4 linked regions of the Homo sapiens genome follow. The protein of the gene in region 1 purifies or fractionates together with the protein of each later gene. This does not show direct contact. Each region holds a gene or a part of one and is shown in the gene's direction. Other genes may lie near its edges.

Region 1 (5,108 bases):
GCCTGCGACGGCTGCTCAGGTTTTTTCAAACGGAGCATCCGAAGGAATAGGACCTATGTCTGCAAATCTGGAAACCAGGTACCTTAGCCAGGGCTGCACTGCTGGGCTCCGCTCTGCTGCCTCCTCACTCTTTTGTTTGTGCCAAGGCCTCCTCTGAGTTTCCACGCAGTTGAGGAGAGACCCGGCCCTGACCTCTCCCTTCCTCTCCCCTCCTTCTTGCCTCAACTCTTGGAGGCCCTTTGGCTGGGGAAAGGCGGGAAGAGGTAAGGGAAGATATGAGTTTACAGGAGGGAGTCTGAAGTCCTAGAGCCTCCCTACACTTTTTTAAATTATTATTATTCTGAAAGATTTTGACACTGGGTAAGGCCCACACCCTGTGGCTCTAAAGCCGGCCCAAGGGACCTAAAGAATTTAGCATCTAAACCACAAGTAGCAAGCAGGAGAAAGAGCTTTGTTATTGTGCCTGCCCACCCCACACTCACTCCTAGCAGCATCAAGCTCAGTCCCCTGATCACTTGCCTGGGATGCAGAAGTAAGCGGCACACAGACATCTGAGTCAAGGTCACCACCACCTTTAGCTGAGACCACCAAGTGAGTGCTAGCCACTTGGAAGAGAGGCCGTGCTTTCTGAAGGGTTGTGCATTTTCAACTCTGGAGAAGCAGGGCTGCTCTGGAAGTGGGCAGTGGGAATCCAGCACCCATGTGACCTTAGCTATGCCTTGTCAGAAAAGGGCAGGGTGAGGAAGAAGAGAAGATTCAAAAGGAAGGTGCAACTGGGACCCTCCTCAAGCTTCCATATCCCTGTCCTCCTTCTCTGCTTAGAATTTGGGCCCAGTCGGTTGTTTTGGTCTTGAGTAGGCAGAACTGTCTCAAAGAGACAGAGGAATCTGGCATGGGCTGAATATGAGCCAAAGCTTCTAGAAAGAGTGAGCAGAACCTCTTGACTCAGTTTCCAGCTCAATAATAGGCTGATTTTAACTAAGGAGATCAACCTTCTGGTCCTACACTTTGCCCTCTCCTTATCAGCGACTCAGACCCTCAGTACAGAGTCCTCCATTTCACTTGTGGAAAGATCCCTGAGGGTGCATTAGTCAGCAGTCATCCTTTGGTAACAAAATAGTAAAACACTTTTCACTAATTGATATATATAGGGTACATGTATACACATGCATATATTGTCTGCTGCTAGTGAATTGTTCTGACATCTTTTTCTGAAGTCATGTCTGCTCATATTGTTTTCTAATAGTTTTGGATTAACCACAAAAACAGAAGATATTTGCATTGAGATAAATTTTGAGCTCTCTAGCCCTGTTACCTGTTTAATTGGCTACTGTATCAGTTTCTAGCTTCACCATATGGACACATCACATTTTACACGCATAGGACTGTATCCCAATAACTCCACAGGATTGTGCGATTACTGCGGGTTGTCAGATTTGAACCAACTTCTACTTAGATTGTCTTTTGCTTTTATGCAGTGAACAGAATTGGAAAATCAAGATCTCTGATGTTGTGCTTGATCTTTTAGAAGGGGATGGCTATCAATTCAAGCATATTGATATCAGTCCAAGTGCTTGTAAAGGACTGATAATAGACTCATCAGGCCTGGTGTTCTTCTTGCAAGGAGAGTAAATGATCAGAGCTGAGGCGTTTATCCTTCTCTCTGGCGCTAGATATTTATATACATTTGATCTGATTTGAAGACACACTTAAGAACTTATGAAGGTTTCCATTTTGCATTTGCATACTTATAAGAATACTGGAAAGATACCATCTGAGGATAGATATATAATTACATTTAATAACAAGTTTTAAAAAACCTGTTTACAATGAACTATTACATTGGCCAGCAAAGATGCCCTAAATAATTCACTTTGGACCCAAAAATTATCTCCTTTCTCTCTTATTCTAGGATTAAATTATATTCCAATTTATTATTAACAGTAATGAGGACATTTAGAAATGGATATGAACATCTGTCCCACCTTTATTTTAAATAAATCATCATAATTTAAATTGGAGAAGTGTGAACTCATAAAACTGCATTCGAATGTGTAATTTTCCCCTAAAGGGCTTCAGGGGGAAGAAAAACATACTTACTCCAACTCCAGAGTATATGAATTTTTGAGATTATGAAGCAAAATAAAAATACATTTATTATCTTTCTTCTCACTACAAATCTAACAGTAGCAACTTCTATAAATATAGGAGAGCACACAATGTCTTAAATATTTTCTGTGTATAAAACTCATGCACATGACTCTTTATGTATCTATGCATATGTCCCCTCGGTAATGACATCTAACACTGAATAAATTCCAAAGGAAACTTTATCTGTAGATTTCCTCTTTCAATGGCTAATGTTTTTACAGAAAATTGCATTAGGTAAACATCTAATTTCTCATGCATCTCAGATAAATATTTCTAAAGAAGTGACTACCTTTATTTTTTCAGTTACTATGCTAACAGTCTGAGCCCATATTATCATTTAGTCTGACAGTCCATCACATTACCTTCCTGGTCCTGTTTACATGGTGAGCATTTCTATATTTTGCTCAAGACTTGAGCTCTTCCTTTTTCACCCTCATCTTCTCTAGGCCTTGCCCTCCTAAACTCTCACCTTCCAGGAAGGGCTGTGTTTCTATGCACCTGGGCCGAGGCTAGTCTTTAAGGCAACTCTCAACTTGCTGATAATAAGGTTGGCTTCATACAAAAGCAAAAGTGAGGTAATAGGAGAGTGAAGAATAAATGGGAGAGATTTATCTGATAGATAAACGGGCTCTCCCAGAAAGTGGCAGAAAGAGGTAGACTCAAGTACTGAAAGCAGAAAGAATCGTTGGTGGGAGGGCGGTATGGTGTGAATCCTGACCCAAAAGCCAGCTCTTAACGGAAGGAACTTAGTGGCCTCTTTCTCTGGGGCCAAGTCGCTGTCTTCGGTCCTGAAGTCTCGTCCCTGTTCCACCACTCCGCGACTGGCGGAAGTTCCCCTAGCGAGAGCCCCGCAGGCCTGCGGGGTCTGCCAAACCCGGCTCTCTAAGCTTCACCTGCTTGGAGAAGGACGTTTCCCCCTTGTCCGCTTTCTTGGGGTCCGGGACTGGCCCTCTTGAAGTAGCCTGGGACGTCCCAGCCCCTTCTCGATCTGGCCCTGCTCATGCCCAAGGCCCTCGCGTTTTGCAGGCCCAGGCTCGGGGCTCCAGGGCCTGCGGCCGGGCAAGGTCGCGCCTCCACACCGTTTCCCCGCCCGGGTGCCGGCTCCGGGTCTCCAGCCTAAAGGCCCTGGGGACCGCTGACCTCCTGCTCTCTGTTCCAGGGAGGCTGTCCGGTGGACAAGACGCACAGAAACCAGTGCAGGGCGTGTCGGCTGAAGAAGTGTTTGGAAGTCAACATGAACAAAGACGGTAATCAGTGCATCCCTTTATTCCAATGTTGATTGAGTAGTAAGTAAATTATATGTACAGAAAATACATGGCACTCCTATGCATGTAAATCAACCCCGGAGCGCTTCTTTCCAGATGCTGGGAATTGGCCTCGGGCTTTCAGTCGTATCCTTCCCGTCTTTCAGCAGGAGCCGCTGGCGACCCCTAGAATTCCCCAGGGCAAGACCCATGCCCACATCAGGAACTTGCGCCCCACAGTCATCTCCACACAGGCAGCGCTTGGGGGGACCCCACTCTCCAGGGGACCGGCGCGCATTTTCTGCCTCCGGTCCTAATCCCTCTTTGCAGCCCTTCGTGGCCACCCTTAAGCCTGCTAGCCTGCCCCAGGATCTTAAAATCTGGATAGTCTCACGGGGAGGAGATCATACAGGCTGGAAGTTCGCGGTGTGTTGAAAAAGGGAGGGCAGAGACGCGAAAACGCGGAATTTCCAGCCCGTGTGCAAATTCTCCAAGATGCCAAAATCAGTACGGCCATTGGGCCGATGTGAGTCCAGGGCCTTCTCTCTGTTCTACAGAAAAGAGGGAAAGGGGGCTGGAGAGGCAGGGTAACGCCCGTGGGTGCCTCGGACACCCAGCTCTCCCAAGGCTCTTAAGCGCGCAACAGCAAGAACCAGGACGTCAGAGTGCTTCCTGGGCCTGGAGCACGGTCCGAGCTGCGTCCCCCGCTGCAGCCTGTCGAGGGCGCCCCAGGCCCAGGCAGGGGGCGAGGGTAATGGGCTGGAGGACACCGTGGGGCCTGGGAACAGGGTGCGAGTGGGTTTTGCTGTGAGGCGGCCCGGGCCGGGTGGCAGCTCCAGGAGGAGAGAGAGCCCCTTCCTCTGCGGCGCAGGAAGCCGGAGGGAGCGTCCAACCTGTTGAACTTGTGTATTGACAAGTTGTCAAGCTCGGCAGGCCGAAGATTGCCCTGAATTAATTTGTTTGTTTAAACTGTTGGTGGTAATTGTCACATCTCCCCTGCCTTTCTCCAGCATACTCGGAGACGGGTTCTCCCTCGTTCCATTCCCTAGCAATCCCGGGGCTCGGGTCCTTTCCTCCTGCGGCCCTCGGAGGCCAAAAGCTATTTCTGTGGGGGCGGGGCCTGCGGGTAGGGAGGCTTGTTCTTGGACGGAGCTGGAAAAGTCTGCGCAGAAACGAGGTGTCTGGCGTGCGCGACGCTCCCTCTCTTTTGGATGGGGGCGAGGATACCTGGCTACTCCAGCCCAGAGGGTCTCTGGTTTCCCTGCGAACCCCCTTCCCTGGTGGGGAGGAGCCCTGGACCGAAGGAGAACACACCTGGTCTTACTTGAGGCTCTGCCATTATCGTGGCACTTTGAGCACGGGCCCCTCTTCTAAGCCTCAGCTTCCGAATCTATTCAGTGTAGTGGTTAGACGATCTCAGAATCCCTTCCTCCCTCAGATTCCCTCTCCCTTCTTCTTTTCACCTCTTGGGCGATTTTGCCCGCCCAGACTTGACATTGGGGCGGGGCTGGGGGGAGAGCCGCAGCGGCTGTGTCTCGACGTCTCTAATCGCCGGCATGCGTTTCTCTGTTTGCCTCTGCAGCCGTGCAGCACGAGCGGGGGCCTCGGACGTCCACCATCCGCAAGCAAGTGGCCCTCTACTTCCGTGGACACAAGGAGGAGAACGGGGCCGCCGCGCACTTTCCCTCGGCGGCGCTCCCTGCGCCGGCCTTC
Region 2 (4,501 bases), on another chromosome or scaffold:
CTCATTTCCATTGTCAAATCTCCAAAGTTTGTTCTGTTCCTAGTCTACTCTGAACTGTACTTTACCAGCCACTGTCCTCCAGCCTAAACCACAGAGAAGACTTTATAATGGTTTGGTCAGTAAAAGTATTCAGATTTACATTAAAAGCACTTCTTAAAAAGCAGTGGTTGTTGATACAACTCATTTTGTATGAAATGTGATTTGTATAATCGACCAAATCAACATATATATGTTGAAATCTAACTTGTAGAAGCACACTCAGCACTTGAAACCCGCAGGTCAGTAGAAGACATGGTGCCAGGCCTCGAGGTCAGGCCAGTCAGGAGAGACACAGCTCACATACCTGAAGACACCAGAGGGTATAAATTAGTAAATTGATTCTGCATGGACTAATTTGCCGTAAGAATTCAGAAGTTAGTGAAAGCACTTTAGGCTTGTCTGTTGATTGCTATTAGAGTCTGTAGATACAGGACAAAGGGTTATCGGTAACTTGGAAAATACATCTGTAAAGGGGCAAAGGCCAGTTGAGTGGTAGTGAATTTGCTGCCAGCAGATAATATTCATTTATCTAATTCTATTCAATGTCTCTGAAAAGAGCGGTATATTGTAATCATATGAATCCTTTTTACTTGACATATTATAAATGTGGTATATCTTTAATATGAGATTGATAAATACTAGACTAGATGATCTCGTTCCTTAATTATTGTCTCATCCATTAGAGCCCTTTGTGTCGAAGTAGGTAAGACCTGACTTAGGAATTAGACTCCCTAGGTTTGAGTCCCAACTCACCACCAAGAGGCTCACTACTAACTTGGGCAACTTGCCTAGCTGCTGTTTGCTTCAATTTCTTTATTTTTCTTTCTTTTTTTTTTGGTAGAGACAGGGTCTTTCTATGTTGCCCAGGCAAGTCTCAAAACTCCTGGCCTCAAGTGATCCTCCCTAAGTGTTAGGATTACAGGCCTGAGACACCATACTGAGCCATGCCTTAATTTCTTCATCTGTAATGTGGAAATACTTAACTCCTAGGTTTGTTTTAAAGATTAAATGAGCTAATATGTAAAGTTCTCTTTTTTCTTTTTTTTTTCTCTCTCTTTTTTTTTTTGGCTGGAGTGCAGTGGCGTGATCATAGCTCATTGCAGCCTCAAACTCCTGGCCTTAAGTGATCCTGCTGGTCTCAGCTTCCCAAAGTGCTGTGATTACAGGCATGAGCCATCACACCTGGCCTAATATGTAAAGTTCTTAAATAGTGCCTAGCACATAGCAAACACTTTGTAAAATGTCAGCTACTTATGTAAGTGCTTCTGTTTTAGAAACAAATTTCATCCCACCTATTATCCTAAAATGCATTAGCTTCAGCTTTCTATTATTCACCTGTCTTCTTAACCTATATTTGGAGGATAAAGTACACTTATCGTTACTTTTTTTTTTTTTTTTTTTTTTTTTTGAGATAGAGTCTTGCTCTGTTGCCCAGGCTGGAGTGCGATGGCGCAGTCTCGGCTCACTGCAACCTCCACCTTCTGGATTCAAGCAATTCTCCTGCCTCAGCCTCCCAAATTGATGGGATTACAGGCATGCATCACCACGCCTGGCTAATTTTTGTATTTTTAGTAGAGACTGGGTTTCACCATGTTGGCCAGGCTGGTCTCAAACTCCTGACCTCAAGTGATCCGCTCACCTAAGCCTCCCAAAGTGTTGGGATTACAGGCGTGAGCCACCGTGCCCGACCACTTATCTTTACTCTTAAGGATTTTTTCTCTTAGTACAAGTTAAAGAATTCATGCAGTGAATCTTTGAAATTAGTTGAAAAATAATTTGGATAATATTTTATAATATTCACAGTAAAGTTATAAATGTATTAAAAGCAAATAACTAATAAAGTCTAGGAAACTTTGGTTGTAAAATTGCCTATCTTGTTGGCTCTCAGCATTTCTCTGCAGCAGCACCTATGTTGAAGAGCCTGTTAGACACTCATCAATTCATGTAAAGAAACCAGCAGCCCATGGTCAGTAGTGGGGGCTCCTAGCTACCTTCCTTCCCTCATGTTCAGCCTGTCGTTGTTATTCTCAGTCTTTTGCCACCTGGAGTTCGCCATCTAGATAGGAAGAGCAGGCATATAAATGGGAAAAAATAACCTTGATACCAGTGTCATGTGATTCTTACAGGGCTCTAGAGAAGGAAAAGTTCACTTTCACTTTGAGTGGTGAAAGAAAAATCAGAGAGTAGGATTAAGCTTGAACCTCAAATGATTGGATAGGATTACAGTAAATAAAGAGGAAGCCTTTCCAAATAAAGGGGAAGCCTCACGTAGCACAGAAGAAAGAGGCCTGGCTTGTTTCAGGGGCCCATTTTGCAAGGGCCAGGCCAGTCTAGCTGACTTTCCCAGAGGGGAAAGTTGGGAGAGATGGGTTGGCGCCAAATTGTGAAATTTGGAGCATTCTGAAGGCCAGGTTGAAGCCCTGACATTGTTGCCACCTTACCTGGCTAGATCTGTACAAGCTGAAACGAAAAGAACCCACACAGCAGAGATTGCAAGTAGGCAGCCCTGTGGCACTGATGGGCTTGCAAAGGCGTTTTGTTAGGTCTGCGAAGTGTGTGTGTGCATGTGCATAGGTGTGTGTTAATGCCAACATTCAAAAATTGGGGAAAGTGGCTTCTGGCTTCTCTTAAAAATGGCTATAGTGGGTCTATGTTCCAGGTAGCAATAGGTGGTTGGCCCCAGTAGCACCTGTTTATTTAGACAGGACAGACACTCTCTGGTTTGCCACAGTCCCCATGAAGCCCACTTCTTCATGTGCATGGCCCACCTGGCTCCTATGGGCATTTGAATTTGCAGCCTCTGAAATAAAGGTAAGAACCAGAATGTTCAGCACCTGGCTAAGTAGTAGAGGCTCACTGTGCTTACGTACCGTGTGGCGTAGTACTTACGGTAAGGACCTATGGGGTATGTGTATGTGGTAAGGGGAACTGCAGCTGGAAATACAAGGGGAGGGGGGCGCTTGTGCTGGTTATTCCCTTCCAAACAAGCAGTCTGTCCTGCTCCAAACTAGTGTCCTCATCAGAAACTCTTTACTTCAACCTTCTTTTCATTGTCCTCCTCATCATCTTTCTTTATTAACCTAGCTTAGTGCAGGTCCTGGACAAATAACCAGGTACCTGCTTTTAGCTATAAGGAATGAGCCCAGAAGCCTCAGCTCACCATCCCAGCTGGGGGCAGATGGCAGCACCCCCGCTGTCAAATAGTTCAGTTCCTTAAAAGTAGTTTGATACTTAATTCACAGACTCTTTCAGAGCAGACTTTTGTAAAGGAAACTCACTAAAGGTAGAACTGAATTATCCTATCAGTCTGTTTCATAGGTGGTACTTTAGAGTTCTGGAAAAGTGTTTTTGACCTGATGAGTTTCCGTAAGATATCCCAAAACAAAGAAAGATTTTCCTAATAGTTTGGACTTTTTCTATTTTCCTGTGGACTCTGAGAAGCCTCAGGACCATGTTTATTCAGCACTGAAACAAGTAAAATGAAGAGAATTGTGGGCCTTACTTAATCAAAGACTATTCACATTTTCACCTTAATTTAGGAATAATATTCCTAGAAATACATGTTGTTATGACGATAAGTAGTATTTTTTCACCAGCACTAAAAGTTATAGTTAAAATATTTTGCTGTATCCCAGCTACTTGGGAGGCTGAGGCAGGAGAATCGCTTGAACCTGGGAGGCGGAGGTTGCAATGAGCCAAGATTGTGCCATTGCACTCCAGCCTGGGCATCAAGAGCAAGACTCCGTCTCAAAAAAAAAAAAAAATTTGCTGTAAGCGAAGACTGAAATAGCTTCTATAGGAGAGCTTTAGAATGAAGTCATTTAGAGGAGCAGGCGAATCCTAACCGCATCTCTCTCTTTAGCTGGACTGAACCCAAACATGAATGTCAACAGCATGGACATGACCGGTGGCTTGTCGGTGAAGGACCCATCCCAGTCCCAGTCACGCCTCCCCCAGTGGACGCACCCCAACTCCATGGATAACTTGCCCAGTGCCGCTTCCCCCCTGGAGCAGAACCCTAGCAAGCATGGTACGTCTGAGCTAGGATGCCTGTGGTGGGATCACTGCTGGCTTATTAATCGATCGTCCTGTTGTATAGCATGGCCATTCTATACTTTTCTAAGAATTGAGCACTGAAAGTTGGATTTAAAATAACCCATTCCATTATAGTGCATATAAGATCTCAGCTAGTCACTGATCAAACTTCTTAAAACCCAACCATTAGATCTTAGCTACAAACTTAGAAATAATTTGAAAACCCCAGAGCAGCAAAGAATCTAGGTCATAGCCTGTGTACTTTTTTTATGTATCTATATTCATCAACAAAAACTTGAGTCTGCTGAAATGTTTTCAATAAAATGGTAAAACATAAATAGAAAATCAAATATACAGTATGTATGGGAACTGCAGCTGTAAATACTAGGGTGCATTTCTGTTGGTTATTCCCCTCCATCCAAGCAGT
Region 3 (4,501 bases), on another chromosome or scaffold:
CCAGAAACTCCCAGGTGAATGGGAGAAACAGAACTGTAGGCAAATCAGTGTATCCTGGGATGGGGTGGGAGACATTTGGCTCTCCTTGGCCACCACTGGGACCACTCTGAGGCTGGTAACCCTGGGAAGTGGTGCGAATGAATACAGGGAGCAGGGTGGGGATTGGCCCCTCTCAGGCCCAAGGGATCACCTCAAACCACACTTGTCCCACTCTTCTGCTCCCACCAAGGCCGCAAGTGTGGTTCTGACTTTGGGGCCGAACTGGGGCCTCCTTCCCTTTGGAGCCTTTGGCCAAGTATACAGAGGACAGGTTCCAGGGTTCTTCCTGCACTAGCCTCTGAAAGAGAGGCCATGGCAGTGACAGAGCTCAGGCCACTTCCCCATAGCCTCCAGACCCTCCCCCAGCCCCCATCCTCCAGCCCCAGGGCCTCAGGGAGCAGATTCTTTACATGCCTGTGGCCAGAGGCAGAACCAAGGAAGTGAGCAAGAGGGAGGTCAGCTTAGTGGAGAAAGGAGGAGAAAACGCCCTCCTCCAACCTGCCTCATTATTGACAGGCCGTGGGGAAAGAAGGGGTCACCAACTCCAGCCGTTTGAGCCCAGCCTGCCACCTGGGTCTAGCATTTGAGAATGAAGCCACGCCTCCCGCGGCCTGTCCTATCCCTAGCTCCCCGGGGACAGGCCTGGGCAATCTCTGGAAAGACCACGGTGTATTCTGCTAACCACTCACACTCCTGGTCTGTGCTTGCTCCCTCCACAGTTCAAACTTCCCAAAGAGTACAGCTGGCCTGAAAAGAAGCTGAAGGTCTCCATCCTGCCTGACGTGGTGTTCGACAGTCCGCTACACTAGCCTGGGCTGGGCCCTGCAGTGGCCAGCAGGGAGCCCAGCTGCTCCCCAGTGACTTCCAGTGTAACAGTTGTGTCAACGAGATCTCCACAAATAAAAGGACAAGTGTGAGGAAGACTGCGCAGTGCCACCCCGCAGCCCAGTGGGGTGCCATGCACAGGCCACAGGCCCTCCACCTCACCTCCAGCTCAGGGGCCGCACCCCGCCGCTGGCTAAGCCTTGTGACCCATCAGGCCAGTGAGTGGGCAAATGCGGACCCTCCCTGCCTGCAGCCTGCACAGATTCTGGTTTGAGGTTTGACTCTGGACCCTGGCTGTGCCCCTAGGTGGAGACAGCCCTCTTTCTCACCTACCCCCTGCCGCACAGCCCAGCAGGAGGGAGGCGGACAGCCAGATGCAGAGCGAGTGGATGCACTTCCCAGCTCATCTCTGGAAGCCTTTGCTACTCAAGCTCCTCTGGCCGCGGAACAATTCCTCTGATCATGTTTGGTTTTCTTCTTCCTTATTTTATTTTGTAGAAACCGGGTGGTATTTTATTGCTCTGCAAAGATGTCCAGAAGCCATGTATATAATGTTTTTTAAACAGAACTTCATTCCCCGTTGAACTTTCGCATTCTCTGACAGAGGCCTAGGGCTGTATCTCTCCCTGGGCTGCCACCAGAGAAGGTGCTTGGTGTTCGCCTGCCAGCCCAGAGCCCTGGAGGAGCCGGCTGCACAGAGAGGCTTTTCTTCCCAGCTGGGCCTGGTGGAGCCCGGGGCAGGGGGAGAGTAGAGACACTCCCTTGTGCAGCTTTGAGCCTAGTTTAGCTGGGGCCAGGGAGGGGTGCTACTGTTTTCCAAGTGAATGGGTCTCAAAGACTTGGTGACCCCAGCCTCATCTTCTAGGCCTTTTCCACCCAACCAGGCCTACCTGGGAGAGGGTGAGGTTCAGCACATCACACACCATCCCCACTGTCATTCAGGGCCTGGGTCTCCAGCTCTGTAACCAGTCCTGTCCCATTTCCTCAGTCCCTGGGCCTCCCAGCCTTCAGGCTGTAGGGCTGCCTTACTAAAATTGAAAAATCCACCTCTTAACATCTCTTTCACTTTGGTTTTGCTAACACTGCTCTCTGCTGCCCTCCCATCCTCCCTGTATCCATTCATGCCCTATCTTTCATTCTCCACTCCTAATCCCTCTCCTTTCTGGCATCCTGGCCTCTCGTGGTCCTCAGCCCCTCACCCCCAGTACTGCAGATCTCACAGTTTGCCTTCCAGAAGCCAGCCTATCTCTAGCCCATGGTTTTGGAGTTCCTCTCGGGTTATCTCCCACGCCTGACCTGGAACCAGCAAGCCCCTTTCCTGCCTTCTTACCCCCAACTCTAGGGATGGGACTGTTACAATACTTCAAGATCACTCTTTACACCTCTTCAAAGCAAAGTCATGACAATGCAGGGCTCCTCATTGCTCCCATCTGCCTCTGCTGCACACACAGGCACCAGCAGGGATGCCACAGGAGTGCCCACAGGGTGCAGGACTCCACTGATGAGAGATCCAGCCAAAGAGCTGCCCCCAGGGGTATGAGGGCACCAGCTGGGTTCTCCAGGGAGCAGGAGTTGGACCTCCATGGAGCCACTAGGCCTGGCCTCCTCTACACATCCCCAGGGCTATCTGGTTAATTCCATCAAGCTCAGAGTTAAAAGGCATATCAGCCTGGAGTATTTGGGAGAGACTGGCTGCAGATCCCCGCCAGCCAAGATGCAAGCCACTCGGGACCTGATGTCGGCAGCTGTGCCTCTACTGCCCTGAGGACTTACCAGAGGGAGCCCTACTGGCCTTCCCCCACCACAGCAGCCCTGCCTGTGAAGCTCTTGTTTCTGACATTTCACAGGCAGAGAGGTGCCATCAGTTCGCCTCCATTCCTTGCCACCATGACCAGCCTCTCCCTGAACTCTCTCTTGCTCGGGACCTGCCTGAGGGCTCCCTGCTGCAGTTCGCCGTACTTCCATCTGCTGGGTGCCTCCATCGTTGGTTGGGTGGGGATGGGGCATTTTCTGAGCTAAGCTTTGTCATTAGTTTGTGAAGCACCTGGTCAGCAACCTGCCCCAGACCTGGAGGGTCTTTGTGGACTGAAGGTAGACACCAGCCAGCATGGTGGCCCTGTTCTGGGGGAGCAGGGTAAGGCAGGAGGAAGTGGGTGAGCTCCGAGATGATGAGCACATGAAGCCTGTGGCCCCTTCGTACCTGCAATATGTCAGGAGCCTCACGCTCACCCAAGATCCTGCAGGGGCCAGGCTCCATCTCACTGGCTCTGAGGGCAGGACAGGGTATCACACATTTCTCACCAGGCCTCCTTTCCTATGGGCATTGGTGCCTCCCAGAGGTTTCTTGGGCTGCTGGCTGGTGAGAGAGGACCCTTAAAGAAGATCAAGCCAAGCTGACCTTGGACCCTGTCCAGCACAGCTTCTGGCACAGGATGCTTGGTGAATGTACCCTTTCTTTCCCTCCCTGCAGCTCTGAGGGAGCCCCTGACCTTGTAGTGGGTGGAGGAGGTAAGGGGCCTCCCTCCCTAAATCTGCCTCTTCTGCAAGCTACTTGGAGACTTGCCTAGTTGTACCCACCCCTCCAGGTCCCTGGTGCTAGAGCTTCTGAGAAGGGCCTTTCCCTTTCCTCTTTGCCTGCTATATAAGGCAGGCTCCTGTGGCTCTGCTGGCTCAGTGTGGGCTGCAGGAGGACTGCAGACTCAGCTGCAATTCTGAGGGGGGTTTGGGAGGCTTGTGCGAGGTCTCAGGCCTGTGTGGGGAGCTGGTGCCTCTTCCTGCCCGTATCTTTCTCTTCCAAGGGCAGTGCTCCAAGGCAGGGACTGGAGAAGCCAAGGGGAGAGTCTAAAAGGGCTAGAGCATTTTTAAAAATAGACACAGGGTCTTGGGACTGGGGTTTCGGATTGAGTTGCAAGCAGGGAGAAAACCTGAAGGTCGGTGCCCCTATGGGGCTGACCAGTAGAGAATTTCCTTTACTGTATTTTTGTGTCTGGTCTTCCCTTTCTGGCTTCTAGGACATCCATGCCAGGTGAGGTGCCTGGGTCCCTGTTACAAGTCAGGAGCCCTGTAGGGAGACCCCTCCTTTTGTACAAGTACCTGAATGCTGCGACAAGCAGATTTTTGTAAAATTTTATATTAGTTTTTAATGTCAGTGGCGACTCGGTTCCTGGGGCTGCAGCCAGCCTGGGACTTTTGTAAGAATTTTTGGGTGACTCACTTAGATGTCGTTTCCTTCTTGCCCCCTCTTCCTCTCTGTAATCTAAGTGCATTAAACATCTTTGCAGAAGTGCCTGGGTTGTGTGCTCATTTCTGGCTGCCTGAAGTAGTGGAGCCGGAAGCCCGGGGCCCTGGCAGAGGGAGTGGGTTGTTGTTAGCCACTTAGAAGCCAGGATGGAGGGAGGCCCCCAGGATTGTTGTCGAGAGTGGAGGAGGTGCCAGAGAGTGGGATCACACAGCTGGTGGCTCTTCAGTCTTGAAGAAATGACCTTGCAAGGACAGGCTCTCCCTCACTGGTCCTGAATTCCTCTAAGGTCAAGGGGGTGGGAGCGAGGAGCAGTCTGGGGAGATGAGGCGGTGGGAAAAGACCCTCTCCCTGCCACTACATCCCTCTTCTATCCTCCTCTCACCAAAAACCCCTTTT
Region 4 (5,044 bases), on another chromosome or scaffold:
ATGTTAATACTCACATCACTGCTATACATTTCTCTTGGCACTTATCCAGCATAACCTGTTATATGTTTATGTTTAGATCCCACTTCCACTTAGGCTGTGAGCTCTTTATCACTTATTATTTATTAACTCACTATCAGGTTATTCATTCAAGATGTATTGGTTGGGTTTTTCTTGGTTTCGTTTCTTTGGAGGAGGGATAAATTGTGGGGGGCTACTGTAGTGAACAATACAGATATTATGGTCCCCACTTTAGTGAGTGTAGGAATCTATTGATGGAACAGGCAAGCAAAGACAGTTAATAAAAAATTAACATAAAAACCAACATAGATGGGTAACTACCTAATCCTTATAGAGAAAGAGGAGTGGGGTGCTTGAAAACTCTTTGCAAAGGTATAGAATGTAAAATCTAAGCTAGAAATTCATACATGAGTAGAATTTACCCTTGTGAAAAATGCTATTATATTCCCTGGTGGAAGGAACAGCGTGAGACTGCACAAAGAGAGACCTGAAAGTAGATCAAGCAGCATGATAATATTAGGGTGGGGAGTGTGACAAATGAAGCTGAAGAGAGAGGCTGTGTGCCCACGCAGATCACAAAATGGCCTTGTAACTTATAAGCCATTTTCATGAGTTTGTGTTGTCCTAGAGAAAATGGGGTGCCTATGTAGGGCTTAAACAGGGCACAACACGATCATATGTATTTCAGGGAAGATCTGGCTGCCCCAGAGTGTCCTCCTGACCATTGAGCTAGGCTTCCACAGGCAGGGAGTCCTGCGGTTTTGGCGGCAGGGAAAGAGAATAGTGTCCAAATAGAATGATATTTCCACTTTGGGCAATACAGGTCTTCAGGCTGATTTGATACTTGGGGATACAAAAGAGGATCCGAGGCTGACAGCTTGGCTGTATGATTCCCTGATTTAGCAGTTGCATAATGAGAAGAGAAGCGGGACAGGAGAGAACTAGTGGGTTCGTTTTCAGATGCGTTGCATTACAATTATCAGGCCTGCTTAGGATTCCGTGTACTGCATAAAATATACTCCATAAATATTTTGATTTTTTATTGTACAGTCCAAGCCTGTAAAATTCTACCAAACCCACCTCACTACTGGAAATGATCAAAGTGAGAACCCCCATTTTTAAGCTACCTACTTAATCCAATAAGCCTCTGTGCGAAAACACACATTTGCCTGCCCTTAAAAGAGCAGTCGGTTGGCTTTCCTGCGTGCTCAATGCATTTCCGAGGCTCTAAGCTCCCGTTCTCGAAGCGCGAAAACGCGGTTCCCCCTGCTGGTCAGGGCTGCGTAATGCAGCGAAAAGAGGGGAAATTCCTAGGGGCGTGGTCGTTGGTGGATGGCGTAAAACGAGCGCCGGGGACATGGGATTGTGCTTGCGTCAACGGCGCGCGCCGTGGGAACCTTGACAAGCAGCATGGCTGCAGGTTGCTCAGAGGCGCCGCGGCCAGCGGCGGCTTCTGATGGGTCTCTGGTAGGGCAGGCTGGCGTCCTGCCTTGCCTAGAGTTGCCGACTTATGCCGCTGCTTGTGCGCTGGTGAACAGTCGCTACTCATGCCTGGTGGCCGGGCCGCACCAAAGGCACATCGCGCTGTCGCCCCGCTACCTTAACAGGAAACGCACCGGCATTCGAGAACAGCTTGATGCGGAGCTCCTTCGCTATTCTGAGAGGTACCGATCTCTTTGCCTGTTCCTTCTTTTGTGCACGGGAAGTAAAGCAGGTGGATGTGCTGACGACGCAGCAGAAAGGGGCAAATGGCAAAGGTCGCATTGCCCCCCAGAGCTTAGCCCCCTGGATTTCTAGAGTCGCGATCCGTCCCTCAAGGCCAGTACCGCTCTGGTAAAGATCTATACAGGGTCCCTTTCATAGATAGAGAAGAAAACTTAAAGATGAAGTTCAGGTGTGGGCGGAGGGAGTGGAGATTCTTGCTCCAGAACCCTGGTGTAGGGGTAGGAAAAGACCAGGGATCTGGAGACCTAGTAGGCCCAGTTCTGTTTGGCATTCAACGTTTCATTTATCCCCTTACGGATGATGCTTTCTCATTTGACGATAAAAATCTGGTTTGCAGTGCTTGAGTAGATTCTCATTCCATAGAAGATAGCATACGAAGCATTAGTACAACCGTTCTATTTGTAAAACATGAAGGACCTTTTTTGTTGTTGGATTTCGCTCTGGTAATTTCCCCATTTTCTCTTCTCTTGGACCTGATCTGGGGATTATGAAAATGCCATTAGTTTAGCGGGATTTTGTTGTTTTTAAGAAGATTTATTCAGTCGAACTAGTGAGCCTGTTGCTTTGGGGAGAGAAAAAACCAAAACGTATGCATTTATATTACGGTATTCAAAAGTGACTTGAAAACTTAGAATTACAGAGGTGTGGGGCGGGGGGCGCGGGCATGTGCTTGAGTATTCCTCTGGACTATACTTTGGTTTAAAAGCGGGGTTCTAAAACTAGAGGGAATGGATTCTCTAGGGATTCATGATTGCCCTTCAGGAATTCCTATGTGAAGTTCCTTGGGCACTGCATCGGAAGTTTTTATCAGTTTCTTAAGGGATCCTGGACCTCCACCCATGTCTAGAATCTGCAGATTCTTCCAAGCACCAATATACACTTCTTGTATGTTTATATTACATACCGAACACTTGAGATACAAAAACAAAAAATAAAATCTCTGTTTCAAGGAGCTTTAAGCTGTAGGAGAGATACAAATACAAGCCAATAAATAGTAAAGTGTTAAAATTTGACAGAAATCTAATAAGATAAGGAGTGTAGAATTTGGATCTTGGGACCTTTGAGAACAACTTGATTGAAGAGGGTACTTTAACATGGTAACATTCCAGGCAAAGAGAGTGGCATAAACAAACGGATACTGGATGTGAACTGGTATGCTTTGCCCAGAGAACTGTATCTATTATATAAGTAGAATAAGGTTTATGTCAGGGGAAAGGCATTGGATGCCATTGGAGAGGAGGGCAGGGGGTCAAAGATGACTCAGAGAGGATGGCCATTTTGCTTTTCCCTTCCTGCCATTGCCAGTTTTTGTTATTTTGGGGGTAAGGTGGGGTTGTTGTTGTTTTTCCTTTTGTGTTTCTGTTTTCTTAAGCAGGGTTAGTGCTCCGTCCTCTCAGTCCCTTTAACGCTGAGACTTGGCACACTTTTGAGAAACTAGTACTTCTCTGCAGTCCCTGGCATATCAGATTTGCAGTTTAAGAAACAACATTTACTTAATGGTTAGCTACCAAATAGGATGAGAAAGTGGACAAGGAGAGGAATTAAGATAATGTTATAATTGTCCAAGAGAAAATGATTAGAGAGGATGGATTTGAGAAATTAAAGGATATACAAAGTAGTCATAACATTTGGAAACACAAGCAACTATCTTGTTTTCTGTAACCAGTACTGCCTGCACTTGACAGGCTAGAGGGGGAAATCACGCAGAGTGGCTCTGAACAGATCTGGACACCACTCCTTCCATATTACTTGGGTATGCTGTTTATTCAAGTGCAAATCAGGCACCACACTTTGAACTATGCATTACTAATAAGGGACAAAACATTGAACATATAGTATTAAAGAACTGAAGTGAGGCTACCACCTTGCCCTGATACCTATTTAGGATGGTATCTGAAAAACAAAAGTGAAGGAGGAAAAAGTATATAGTGTTGGGTGCCTGTGTTCACATATCTGATGACTTTTAACAAAATCCCCCTTGAATTTATATACTGCTAAGTTCCTGAAAATTTTAATATATATTAAAACTGTGCAAAGATGACTTTGTGTTGATGTGTTTTAAGAGTTAAATTAGGTGCCTAGCTATTTGTAAATAGATTTGTCCTTTTATTCAAAAGTCAGAGCGAAGGACATTTCCTCATTGTATCAGACTGTCCTGTACATGACAGACTCTTTTCTTCCCTGGCTTCTGCAAAGTTTGTGATAACCATGACTAGTATCACAAATTTCCACATGTCCCCCCTTCCACCAGGGGACCACAGCCCTCCTTCCCCTTGAGAATCACTCTGATACTTGAGAGACAAGGCTTTGATTAGCGGAAATAAAGTCTTGATAATTTGTTTTTCTGTCTAGTATGGCAGTTAATTTTTCTTCCTATTCTCTGTTTTCTGTGTCCCTAACATTGTCTTAGTGATAGGATGATTCCAGCTTAGGAATGCCACATGCGGAAATTAAAACCTCAGAAAATTGCTTTCCCGAGTAAGTCTCTGAGTTAGGGTTTTCCTAATTTGGTAATTCTTAAAGTGTATTTTCTGTGGCTTCTGGCTGTTTTACTAAACAACATCTGTTAGGGATAAATTCTTTCCCTTATTTTATGTGAATTGTTAGAAGTTTGAGTTCAACAAAAAATATTCTTTGCTATCAAAGGCCTTAGAGTCATGTGTGAAATTCAAACATATATACAGATAGGTTCAATACAATTAGATTAAGAACAGTGAGAAAGTTGGCCTATAGGAGTAGAGGAATGATTTCAGCTTTGCCTGGGGGAGTCAGGGAAGTTTTCTCCAACAAGTAGTGGGTGTGGTAATGAAGCCACCAGGTTTTGTTTGTTTTGTTGTTTTTTGTTCCTTTGTTTGAGATGGAGTCTCCCTCTGTCGCTCAGGCTGGAGTGCAGTGCTGAGATCTCAGCTCACCACACCCTCCGCCTCCCACCACTAGGTCTTTCTCCTTAATAGTTATAATTCCTTAAAAGCTAAGAAATAACAGTTTGAAAAATAGTTGTCCCTTAATCATGACTGTTACATTTGTAGACTAAAGTGTCAGTCAGTTCCTAAATAATGTAGTTGTATTAACATTTGCATTTACTATCAACAGTTGAAGTTTGGGATTTTCTCTATTAAGTCATTGACTTTAAAATTCAGGGGCTTCAGCTTTAACCGTAATGCTTCCCTTGTTATACGCCGTCAAGTACTGAAATTCAGTAATGGTGAATAATACCAAAATTGCCTCTTATTCAGTCATGTCCACAGAGATACACATTTTCTTTGCTAAGTCCCTTCTTTCTATCCTAGTATAACTTGAA

Evidence for each region. Proteins that work in one complex are often made in the same cells at the same time.
Region 2: the proteins of NR2E1 (region 1) and TNRC6C purify together in Homo sapiens (affinity purification with mass spectrometry; 3 studies listed by BioGRID and IntAct, with this or other methods). This does not show direct contact.
Region 3: the proteins of NR2E1 (region 1) and SUFU purify together in Homo sapiens (affinity purification with mass spectrometry; 3 studies listed by BioGRID and IntAct, with this or other methods). This does not show direct contact.
Region 4: the proteins of NR2E1 (region 1) and POLR1F purify together in Homo sapiens (affinity purification with mass spectrometry, with the first as the bait; one large-scale study listed by BioGRID). This does not show direct contact.

What each region holds. Positions count from the first base shown.
Region 1 is NC_000006.12:108,171,526-108,176,633, forward strand, and holds part of NR2E1 (nuclear receptor subfamily 2 group E member 1), read left to right. Parts: coding exon 1-78; intron 79-3,310; coding exon 3,311-3,398; intron 3,399-4,977; coding exon 4,978-5,108. UniProt on the Homo sapiens protein: Orphan receptor that binds DNA as a monomer to hormone response elements (HRE) containing an extended core motif half-site sequence 5'-AAGGTCA-3' in which the 5' flanking nucleotides participate in determining receptor specificity.
Region 2 is NC_000017.11:78,087,539-78,092,039, forward strand, and holds part of TNRC6C (trinucleotide repeat-containing gene 6C protein), read left to right. Parts: intron 1-3,901; coding exon 3,902-4,069; intron 4,070-4,501. UniProt on the Homo sapiens protein: Plays a role in RNA-mediated gene silencing by micro-RNAs (miRNAs). Required for miRNA-dependent translational repression of complementary mRNAs by argonaute family proteins.
Region 3 is NC_000010.11:102,629,308-102,633,808, forward strand, and holds the end of SUFU (suppressor of fused homolog), read left to right. Parts: intron 1-758; coding exon 759-848; 3' UTR 849-4,228; downstream 4,229-4,501. UniProt on the Homo sapiens protein: Negative regulator in the hedgehog/smoothened signaling pathway. Down-regulates GLI1-mediated transactivation of target genes. Down-regulates GLI2-mediated transactivation of target genes. Part of a corepressor complex that acts on DNA-bound GLI1.
Region 4 is NC_000007.14:19,705,401-19,710,444, reverse strand, and holds the start of POLR1F (DNA-directed RNA polymerase I subunit RPA43), read left to right. Parts: upstream 1-1,407; 5' UTR 1,408-1,428; coding exon 1,429-1,682; intron 1,683-5,008; exon of another isoform or gene 5,009-5,044. UniProt on the Homo sapiens protein: Component of RNA polymerase I (Pol I), a DNA-dependent RNA polymerase which synthesizes ribosomal RNA precursors using the four ribonucleoside triphosphates as substrates.